2 separate regions of the Homo sapiens genome follow, and region 1 is linked to region 2. The links come from fine-mapping of genetic effects on gene expression. A gene starts in region 2. The other region holds a variant in brackets. All regions are shown on one strand. Distances are from middle to middle. Region 1 overlaps AKAP13 (A-kinase anchoring protein 13). Region 2 holds the start of KLHL25 (kelch like family member 25).

Region 1 (5,379 bases), 160 kb before region 2:
TGGGGGTGAGGCATGACTACTAATGGATATAGGGTTTCTTTTTGTCAAGATAAAAATGTTTAAAATTACATAGTGGTGATGGTTACACAACTCTATGAATATACTAGTACTATTGAATTATATACGTTAAATGGGCCAGTTTTCTAGTATGTGAATTACATCTCAATAAGGATGTTAAAATGCAAAATAACACACACACACTTTCTCTCTCTCTCTCTCTCTCACACACACACACACACACACACACACACACACACACACACACACACACACTAAATGCAATGTGGTGATTTGGATGGGATCCTGGAACAGAAAGAGAACACTAATGGGAAAACAAGTGAAATCCAAATAAAGTCCGGAGTTTACTTAATAGTAATGTACCAGTGTTGGTTTCTTAGTATTGACAACTGTGTTATGGTTATGTAAGATGTTAACGTTGGAGAAACCAGTGAGGAAGGGAGTGGGGATAAACGGGAACTTTCTGTGCTGTCTTTGCAAACTAAAGTTATTTCTACTTTTTATGTATACTATTTTTTGTATCAGCCTGAAGTTGTTACAAAATAAGTTTATCAAGATAAATTTTTTAAAAATAAAAGAAATATATAACCATTGAAGAAAATTTGGGAAACTACAGGAAAGTTAAAAGGAATATAAGTTGTCTCTTTGTGGTCGTTCAGACATATCCACCCAATTGAAAATAGATTAGGAGATTGCACCACAGAAGTGTAACATGTCAAGAGATTTTTGGCTGCCACTGTGTGTAAAATTTTTAATACTATATAATATATACTAATTGTTAATGTGGTGGATCGGAAATTGTTCCGTACTTGCAAGCTGGCAAGTTAACTTACATCCTGACACAGTTTCATGGGTGCTGGCTGAAGTCATGGCATTCTAGGGTCAGAGACAGGTAAATGTATTACTCATTGCATAGCCAGCAGCATCAGCATCACCTTCTCGTTGGTTCTCCTTGCTTCCTAAGCCCTATGCAGGCAACACGAAGGGGTCCAGGTTGATGCTGTGTCACAGCTGAGAAATCTAAACCTGAAGAAATCTGAATTTTTATACAGTGGACAGTAAGCCTGTGTGACCTTTGCCCTTGACTGAGACATTATCTTTATAATACTGGACAGAAACAAACCTGCCCTTTGCTTCGGAAGGAAACAGTATTTTTATCTTCTAAGGGTGTTTGATATACAAACAGTCTTGAAAAGATAGTCTAGAATAAAAGGACCATCAGGGCTTTTGCTGATAAAACCTGCAGAAATGCAAGAGGGACATGGAGAATTGTTTTCCAACATGATTATGTTCTCATCACTGTTATTATGTTCTCATCACTGTTACTCAGAAATTAGCATATTTACTTAAAGATATGTAACTTTAATTTTGTTCTAGTAGTATGTGTTTATTGTATATAATTTTGTAAAATATGAAACTCACTTTATGTAACACATGTACCTAAAATGACAGGAAAAGTATAGAGAGTCTTAGTTGCTTGCATATTCAAGGCAAATAATGTTCACTTTACTCATTGGCTGTGGAATGACATGTGGTATTGAGAAGGTAATGAAAAGTATTCTAAGAAATAAAATTTTTTTTTTTTTGAGGCGGAATCTTGCTCTGTCGCTAGGCTGGAGTGCTGTGGCGTGATCTTGGCTCACTGCAACCTCTGACTCCATGGTTCAAGCGATTCTCCTGTCTCAGCCTCCCAAGTAGCTGGGACTACAGGCATGTGCCACCACGCCCAGATAATTTTTGTATTTTTTCAGTAGAGACAGGGTTTCACTATGTTGGCCAGGATGATCTCGAACTCCTAACCTTGTGATCCGCCTGCCTCGGCCTCCCAAAGTGCTGGGATTACAGGCATGTGCCACCGCGCCCGGCAGAAATAGAATTTTAATAGGGTTTTCTAAACTGTTGGCCCCTTGTTGAAGGTCAAGGTAAGAGACAGTAATATGGTAATTCGTAGTAGTTCATTTCCACATTCTTTACTTATCACTAAAGAATCATCTGAGCTCTTTTATTTCTGTAAACTAAACTTGTTGCTGTATTCATGCAGCCTCTTCTTATTACAGGAATAATAGGGGCGGGGGGGGAGTAATTTTTTCCCTTCCAGCTTAAAAGTGTAGTTTTGTATTGCAGTACAGTGGTTCTATTAGCAGAGAATCTTATTTCACAGTAAGTAAAATTTGGCTCATTGCAAATGAAATGCCATTTGAAATTAAGAGAAAATTCTCTGAATGACTTTTTTTTTCTTTTTTTTTTTTTTTTTTTTTTTTTTGAGACGGAGTCTCTCTTTGTCACCCAGGCTGGAGTGCAGTGGCACAATCTCGGCTTACTGCAAGCTGAGCCTCCCGGGTTCACGCCATTCTCCTGCCTCAGCCTCCCGAGTAGCTGGGACTACAGGCGCCCGCCACCACGCCTGGCTAATGTTTTTGTATTTTTAGTAGAGACGGGGTTTCACTGTGTTAGCCAGGATGGTCTCGATCTCCTGACCTCGTGATCTGCCCACCTCGGCCTCCCAAAGTGCTGGGATTACAGGTATGAGCCACTGCACCCGGCCTTTTTTTTTTAAAAAGGAAAATGTGTTGTTTCAATTCTTTGAAAGATGTGGATAGGGTGTTGGTAAAGTTACAAAATTTGTGGTTACTTCCTTATTGTGTATACCTTAAAGTACCTTTCAGAAAGGATATTTTTAAATATGTGTAATCCCAGGGCACCTGCTGAAGATTCAGTTCCATTCAGGATTACTTTTAAATTTTTGGCATCATTTTGTAACACACCAGGAACTGAAACCTTGATGGCCCCTGATTCTTGCTGTTTTTGCTCTCTGTAATAGTAAAATAGCTGAACAGAGCAAATGATAAAGTGTTTTGTTTCATGTGGTTCTAGTTTGCCTGGTTATTTGCAAGCAGTTTAATTCCTTTCATTCATTTTATTG[T/TCAAA]CAGTTATAATTTGACAAAATGTCTCTAGCTTTCTGCCTTATGCCACTTAGCATATACAGTAAAACTGTTGATCTTTGTCAGCAGAAGAGTTTAAGATTCTCACTAAAGTGATCAGAAATATATTTTAGAGGTTATTGAATAAAATCAAGGCTTCTGTCTTTGAGCATACAAATATTCACAACTACTTAGTAGTTTGTTTAGATATTTCTGCTCATATTATTTAGAATTACATCTAAGTATGTCAGTTTTAATGATTAAAGGGTTATAATGTTAAGGTGTGTGGGAATTGTGAAGACTAAAATTTATTTTATATTTTATACTTCTGTTTTTGAGAATGTATTTGTTTTCAGCTTTATTCTGGTATAAATTTCCATACAACAAAATTAACCAATATAAGTTTATAGTTTGGTGAGCCTTGACAAATATTTAAATTGTGTAATCACTACCGCATCATAATAGGAACACTTCTGTCAGCTCAGAAGTTCTGTTCTGTCTCCCTGTAGTCAGTCTTCTCCTTCATTCTCTGCTGATCACTAATGTTTTCTTGCTACTGTAGGCTTGCCTTTTCTAGATATTGCATGGATAGAACCATACAATACATAGTCTTTTGAGTCTGGCTTTTTTTTTTTTTTAACTTACCGTAATACTCTTGAGATTCATCCATGTTGTTTGTATCAGCAGTTCATTTCTTCTTTCTATGAATCTATAACATTGTATGGATATATTATAATTTGCTTATCCATTTACCATTTGATGGCAATCTGGACTGTTTCTAGTTTGGAGCTCTCATGAATTAAAGCGCTTTAAAAATTCCAGTGCAAGTCTTTGTGTGACAGTAGGTTTTGATTCTTCTTCGGTAAATGAATGGAATGCTATGTTGTATGTAAGTATATGTTTGACATTATGAAAAACTGCTAAACTGCTTTCCCAAAATGGCTGTACTATTTTGCTTTCTTTCAGCAACAGTACTGTGTTCTAGTTGCTCCACATCTTTGCCAACATTTGGTATTATCAGTCTCAAATTTTGACTCTTGTAATGGATGTCTGCTGCTATGTCCTTGTGATTTTAATTTACATTTTCCTGTGGATTAATGATGTTGGGTATCTTTTTTTTGCTTATCTGCCTTTCGTATATCTTTTTAAATAAAATGTTTATTCAAATCTTTTACCCATTTAAAAAATCATGTTGCTTTGTTACTGCATTGTAAGAGTTTCTTTTATTTTTAAATATTCCGGGTAGGAGTTCTTAGCAGATAATTGTTTTATAAATATTTTCCTTCAGTTTTTAGTTTACCTTTTTGTTTTCCTAACAGTGGCTTTTGAGGAGTAAAAGTTTTTAAGGTTGACATAGATTTATCCTTTTTTTTCATGTTTTAAAAAATGTACTATTTAAGAAATCTTTGTGTAACCGAAGTTCCCATAAAAGTGTTTCCCTCTGTCTTCTTTAGGAGTTTTATAGTTTTAGGTTGAACATTTAGATATATAAAGTATTCTGAGTTCATTTTTATAGGTGGTAAGGTTTGGGGTAAGATTTTAGATCTTGGGGAGTTGTATTTGTTTACATATTAGTATCCAGTCGTTATAGCATCATTTGTTCATAAGACTATTTGTTCCTCATTAAAATATCTTGGCATCTTTGTCAGGAATCAATGGGCCATATCTGTGAAGGTCTGTTTGTGGATTCTCTCTTCTCTGCCATTGATCTATATGTCTGCTGTTTAATATCACCCCGGTTTGGTTAGTGCAGCTTTTATAGTATGTCTTGAAATCATGTAGTGATCAATTTGAGGACAATTAACAACTGTATTGAGTCTTCTGATCTCATGGAATCTCTGTATTTATTTAAGTCTGCATTAATTTTTCTCAACAATGTTTTATAAAGGTTTCAGAGTATGAGTCTTACTCATATTTTCTTAAAATTATCCCTAATTATTTTATATTTATTGAGGCTTTTGTAAATGGTATTGCTTTTACTTTTAATTTCAATTTCTAATTGCTCATTGCTAGTATGTTGACTTTGTGTCTGGCAACCTTGCTTTTATTAATACATTATTTATTCCAGTATTTTTATAGATTCCTTAGGATTTTCTACATAGGCAGTCACGCCATTTGTGAATAAACCAAGTTTTACTTCTTCCTTTCCAATGGTATGCGTTTTCTTTCTTTTTCTGCTTTACTGCACTGGATAGGACCTCCAGAATATTGTTGAATAAAAGTGATGAGAATGGACATCTTTGGTTACTGATCTCAGAATGAAAGCATTTAGTCTTTCACCAATAAATATAATGTTAACCGTAGGTTTTTTATAGATGCCTTTGTCAGGTTGAGTAATTTCCTTTCTGTTCCTAGTGTTCTGAGAGTTTTTATCATGAATAGATGTTGAATTTTGCTGATTTTTTTTTTTTCCTTTGAGGCAGATTCTTGCTTTGTTGTCCAG
Region 2 (5,379 bases):
GCCTATCTTGAGGCTGGCAATGAATTGGGCCTCTGGGAGAAGTGTGGGTGAGCGACAGGACAAAGGTGGCTGCCCTACACCTCGAATCTGGGCGATGACATGCCTTTCTCATCTTAGTCAAGGCATCCTCTCCCCAGGAAGCCTTGCCCACCTGTGTCTCCTTCTCTCCTCTTGCTGCCTCTATCACTACGATGTGTCAGGGCCCCTAATCCATGTGCCAGCACTCCCTCATCTAGGTGCTCACTAAAGGAAGAGTCTCCAGCACCTAACTCAGGGCCTGGCACACAGCAGGTGCCCAATCAAGTCTGTTCAAACAATGAATCAATCAATCAATCAGTCACAAACCACCCACTAAATAACACTCTCACTCATCCTACCCTTCCCCCCGCCCCCGCCCAAGTGATAGACGGGACGAACCAAGCTTGCTTTCACTGGGTAATTGTTCTCTTTTCTTCCTGCTCTCTTCTGCCCACACGGGGTGCCCGCAGATTTAAAACGCTATTAAGGGGCATCGGGCTGCAGAACCTGCTTCCGATGTGGAGCATGCAATTTGCCTATAGCTCTTCTCTCCGCACCACATACATAAATCCAACTGCAGCCCAAGACCCCAGGATGAAGGTGTCTTCCATTTCTACCTCCCTTTTATCAACCACCCTGGAGTCACTGCCTGACAAATGACTCAAAACTGAAATAGCTGCCAGGCCGGAAAAAGACTGACTACGTCAACCTTCACAGGCACAGCTTGTGGACCCAAGAGCCTCCGGTCTTGGGACACCAAATGGACCCTGAGGTGGGGTAGACTTTGTGTCCTACTCTTCCCCAGACCCCCACGCAAGCCTTCACCAACATGCCAGGAATCCTCACAGCTCAGATCAGCACACTGAGCATCAGTTCCTCCTATGAATGGGGAGACTGGGACCCAGGGTCCCAGAGGGCTTGGCCCCATAACGGTCACTGGAATCTGGTCCAGGATACAGACCGTGGAATCCTGCCTCCTCTCCTGGTGCTACTGCTAACTTCCTTCCCTTCCTCTCTCTATTGGGCCGATAGAGTGGAACCAAATGGTCCAGACACCTGGCATTCTCTGCCCTGACTACCGAGGAGAGTCAAAGTCCAGCCCGCCTTCCCCAAGGTCAAATTCACCGGGATCCAGCAGGACCCAAGAGCGTCCAGATTAAATCTGCAGGGGCCTGGGTCCGCCCCCTCACCCACAGTTCGTTGGGTCAGGCCTCTAGAGAGATGTTTCTTTGTTCAAAGACAATGGGAATGCACTTTGGGGGCTTAGAGCAGCAACACAAAAAAAGTATCTGGTATCTCCCGGGCACAATCCCCCAAGAGAAAAGCTTCTAAAGCAACTACGAAAGAGACAGGGGGAGTGGGGGCGTAACATCGCGCGGTGTGTCTCGGAGCCAGGGCAAGTGTGGTAATTAGAGTCAGGCTAGAGGGCTTGCTCTGGACCTGCCAGTCTGGCCGCCACCCAGGTGGACAGGTGGGTGTGCCTTTGAGTGCGACCTTTCTCTGCCGCTGGACAGTTCTGCAAACCGAAACGAGGGACCCTGGCAGGCGGAACGTGAACGGCTCGGGGCTCCGCGGCCAGGCCCGCGCAAACCCTCCCCTTGTGAACCCCGGGCCCTCGCTCTGCGCCAGGCAGGCAGCCATCCGGCCTGGGCGTCCAAGGCGCGGGGCATCGCCGCTCGCGTCCTCAAAGACAAGCAGTCTCTCTTTCCAGGATCAATAGTAATTTTTTAAAAAAAAGAGTCTGCGGACTCAATGAATCAACCACTCCCTGGGGAAAGAGTAGCGGCTCCCGCGCGCAACATCCATTTGCCAAACAATTCATTCCCTCGCGCAGAGCTCTCGGCGAATTCCCTCGCGGAGCCGCGGGGTGCCGGCCGGCCGCCGCTCCCCACCATTGTCCCAGGGCCCCGGCCCCAGCCGCGGGGCCCCCTCCCGGGACACGTAGTCCCGCGGGGGCTCCGAGCGCTTGGTCCCGGCCCGGCCCGGGGTGGTGAGTCCCCAGCGCAGGGAGCGGGGGCGCGGGTGCTGCGGCCAGAGCACGGCGTCCCCGCCCGGCCTGGATACTCACTGCCGGAGACGATCCCCGCCGCCGCCGCCGCCTCAGAGACCACTCCCGGCAGCCCGCGCGAGCTCAACAGGCTCCGCCGCGGCTCCCGTCGGCCGGCTCTCCACAGGCAAAAACGCTCTCGCTGCGATACAGCCTAGGCGCCGCCAACAAACTAGTTTCTCCGGCCTTCCCGCCCCGCCTCCCGGCCCGAAGAGCAGCAGCCAATCAGAGGCATCGCCTCTGTGACGGATGGGCAGCCGAACCCTTCAGTGCAGCCGCAGAAAAGAAGGGGGTGGGCCCCAGGCCGCGCCGGCACCGGGGGGTGGGGGGCCGGGGGCGGGGAGGGGGGGGGACCGGGGGCGGGGCGGGGCGAGGAAAAGGACTTCGACCAGATTCTTAAAGAGACAGGCGCCTGCCCAACCCCGCCGCCCAAGTTTGGGAACAAAACGCGACGGTGTTCTAGAGCTTTCCAGAGGGAGCACTGTAGATTGCATATGCCTCTTTTGTGTTCGGGTCACAAGTGTTGTAGATCTCTTTAGACTCTTCAGAGCCACACTAGTAGTTGCCCGAGTGTTAATGAAACCCTGTCTTTCACTCTGGGCTTGTTTGAATGTTTGGGACTTTCTGCAGCCTCCAAACCCCACCTGTACTTGAAATCTGTATTTTTTGGAGTATTTCAGCTCTCCTCTCTGTGTCATTTCTCACTAAACTCCTTTCGTAAGCCAGCCTTTAAATGTTCGTTCATTCATTCATTCATCCATCCATCCAATAATTTCTTCCAGGAACGTTTCCTGGACGCCCACACCATGCACTCATCTTGGAGGGGGAGAACGGTTTGTGATTCTTCGTCCTTTTCCCTCCTGACTACTACTTCAGCTTACTGTGTGTGTCCAATCTCATCCGTAAAGCGGCAGATAAAAACTCCTCATCGGATTATTTGGGGGATTAAAGGAGACAAATTCCCAGACAAATGAGTGCGCAATAAATGTCCTCTCTTTTCTCCCTCCCAATGAAAATCGATAATTCAAGTAGGTTGCTTAAGGATACAAAAGGTAAAGCATAGAAAGTGATAAGAACGAAAGAGCCAAGCCTGGGGCGGGGAAATTCCCAGGAAGCAGAGGTCACCCTGACGGAGGTGGAGGTGGGAGGTGCAAGGAAGGTCTAAGAAAGTGTACAAAGATTTGGGAGAGGGGATAGGATTGTGACTAGTGGAACCTGGGAAATAGAGCCCCTGGGTAGAAAGCTGCTTAGACAGGACAGATATGCCAGGGTTAAAAGACTGGGAGATGATGAGAAGATACCACCAGGGAAGGCATTTTTGGGAAACAGCTTGATGTTCTGGGTTTGAAGCCCCGCCCTGCCCCTCAAGAGCTGGGTAGGACTGAAGCAGATGGCTCAGACTCTCTGGTGTCTGGTTCTTACTGGTGAAGAGGATTCTAAAACCTTTCTTGCAGGGGTATGGGAAAGATTAAGATAACATATGGAATAGGCCTGGCATGTAGTAAGTGCTCAGTACAGATTTGTGCTTCCATTTGGCCCAGATCTGCAGACATCTAAGGCACCAGGGTTCTGATATTTATGAACAATATTGGCCAGAGGTAAGAAGCTTGCCAAGTGCACTGTTAAGGTGCCTTCTGAAGAGAAAAGGTAGTGAGAGGTGAAGCCAGCTGGACTTTCTGGGTCCAGTGGGGACTTGGAGAACTTTTCTGTCTTACAAGAGGATTGTAAAATGCACCAATCAGCGCTCTGTATCTAGCTAGAGGTTTGTAAAATGTACCAATTAGTGCTCTGTAGAAATGCACCAATCAGCACTCTGTGGCTAGCTAGAGGTTTGTAAAACGGACCAATCAGCACTCTGTAAAATGGACCAATCAGCAGCACATGGGCCTGGACAAATAAGCTAATAAAAGCTGGCCGCCCCCCAGCCAGGAGCAGCAACCCACTTGGGTCCCCTTTGGCGCTGTGGGGGCTTTGTTCTTTCGCTCTCCACGGTAAATTTTTCTGCTGCTCACTCTTTGGGTTCACGCCACCTCTAAGAGCTGTAACACTCACCGTGAAGGTCCGCAGCTTCATTCCTGAAGTCAGCGAGACCACCAACCCACCGGAAGGAACCAGCTCCAACACATTAGCATCAAAGTAATTACTTCATTAAGGAAATGACAGAGATCACATTTGTAGTTTTATCCTGCCGATTTTCTAGCACTAGAGTGTTTATAGAATTGTTGGTTGAATGAAGCTCCACATGCAAAATTGATTCTTGGCAAGTTTATAACTGTTGCTTATTATTTTATGCAGGTTCGCTGTAAAATTATAAGTGCCAACCGCCCAGTAAAATCTGGTCCACATTATAATTTTTTCTCTCTTCAACTCCAAGGCTTAAATTAGGTACTAGAATATATTAAAATCAAATACAGTGTAAGCAATGGGACAAAATCAGACTAAGAACACGTGTGGAGTTAATCGAATTTAGGTACGATTTGAAAGAAGATGAGAGGAAGAGCGGAAGTTTGCCTTGCCATCTATTGCGGACCCTGGAGCATTACCGTCAACGCAGCCCTTACCAGCCAGTGTTGTAATGGCCTGCTTAGCTAGTCCACCTGCTGTGCAGGGAGCTCTGGGAGGGCAGGGACCATGAATTCATCTCAGAACTCTTAGGGCTGCATCAAAGTTGTCTACACAGTTTTGAAATACTGTGAATAAATCTCATATCCGTTAGAATTAGTTTTTACTGCATATGACAGAAAACCCAAAATTAACTGTGACTGAAACAAGATAGAAGTTTCTTGCTTATGCAAAATAAAGCTAAAGTTAAGCTATCCTTTGTTGGCAACTCCACAGTTGTCAGAAACACGGGCTACTGTATTTTTATTCCTTCATCTGTAATGCTTGGTTCCCATTTGCAAGGTTGCCCCATAGTCCAAGATGGCTGCTAGGGCTCCAACTCTGACACCTATATCCCAGACAGTAGGAAGGAATAATGGCGGAAGAGCATGAGATGTGTGTCTTCCAGCCTGGTTAGCTCTATTTATGCAGACTGCAGAAGTCCCACACAACACTTTTGTTTATGGACAGAATTTAGTTTTCCTACCTGCAAGAGCAGCTGGGAAATGTAGACTTTTATGTTAGTACATCACCTCCTCAAAGTCAGGGTTCTGTTAACAAGGAAGAGGGAATAGATGCCTGTTGTCCACCAACAATCCTTACCAATACCTTCCTCCCAGCATTGCCATCTAGCTAGTATTCCTGGTGGCCCAGAATCTGAAGTCTCAGAAATTCTGGGATGATGTATAGAATTCAATATATGTTCGTTAATA

The links. PIP is the estimated chance that this variant, and not a neighbour inherited with it, causes the effect. A credible set is the group of variants that fine-mapping cannot tell apart.
Region 1: its variant is the best candidate, but not a certain one, in a credible set for the expression of KLHL25 in whole blood (INTERVAL, PIP 0.77).

What each region holds. Positions count from the first base shown.
Region 1 is chr15:85,631,281-85,636,659 of GRCh38, forward strand. The region is part of intron 8 of AKAP13 (A-kinase anchoring protein 13); the gene reads left to right. Among named protein-coding and RNA genes, the nearest start is that of LINC02883, 120 kb to the right of the region's middle. The variant T/TCAAA (reference allele first, on the strand shown) is at 2,942.
Region 2 is chr15:85,792,680-85,798,058 of GRCh38, forward strand. KLHL25 (kelch like family member 25) reads right to left here and starts at 2,246. Exons shown (of 3, transcript NM_022480.4): 1 at 2,087-2,246. RefSeq lists silencers at 1,917-2,216, 2,367-2,436.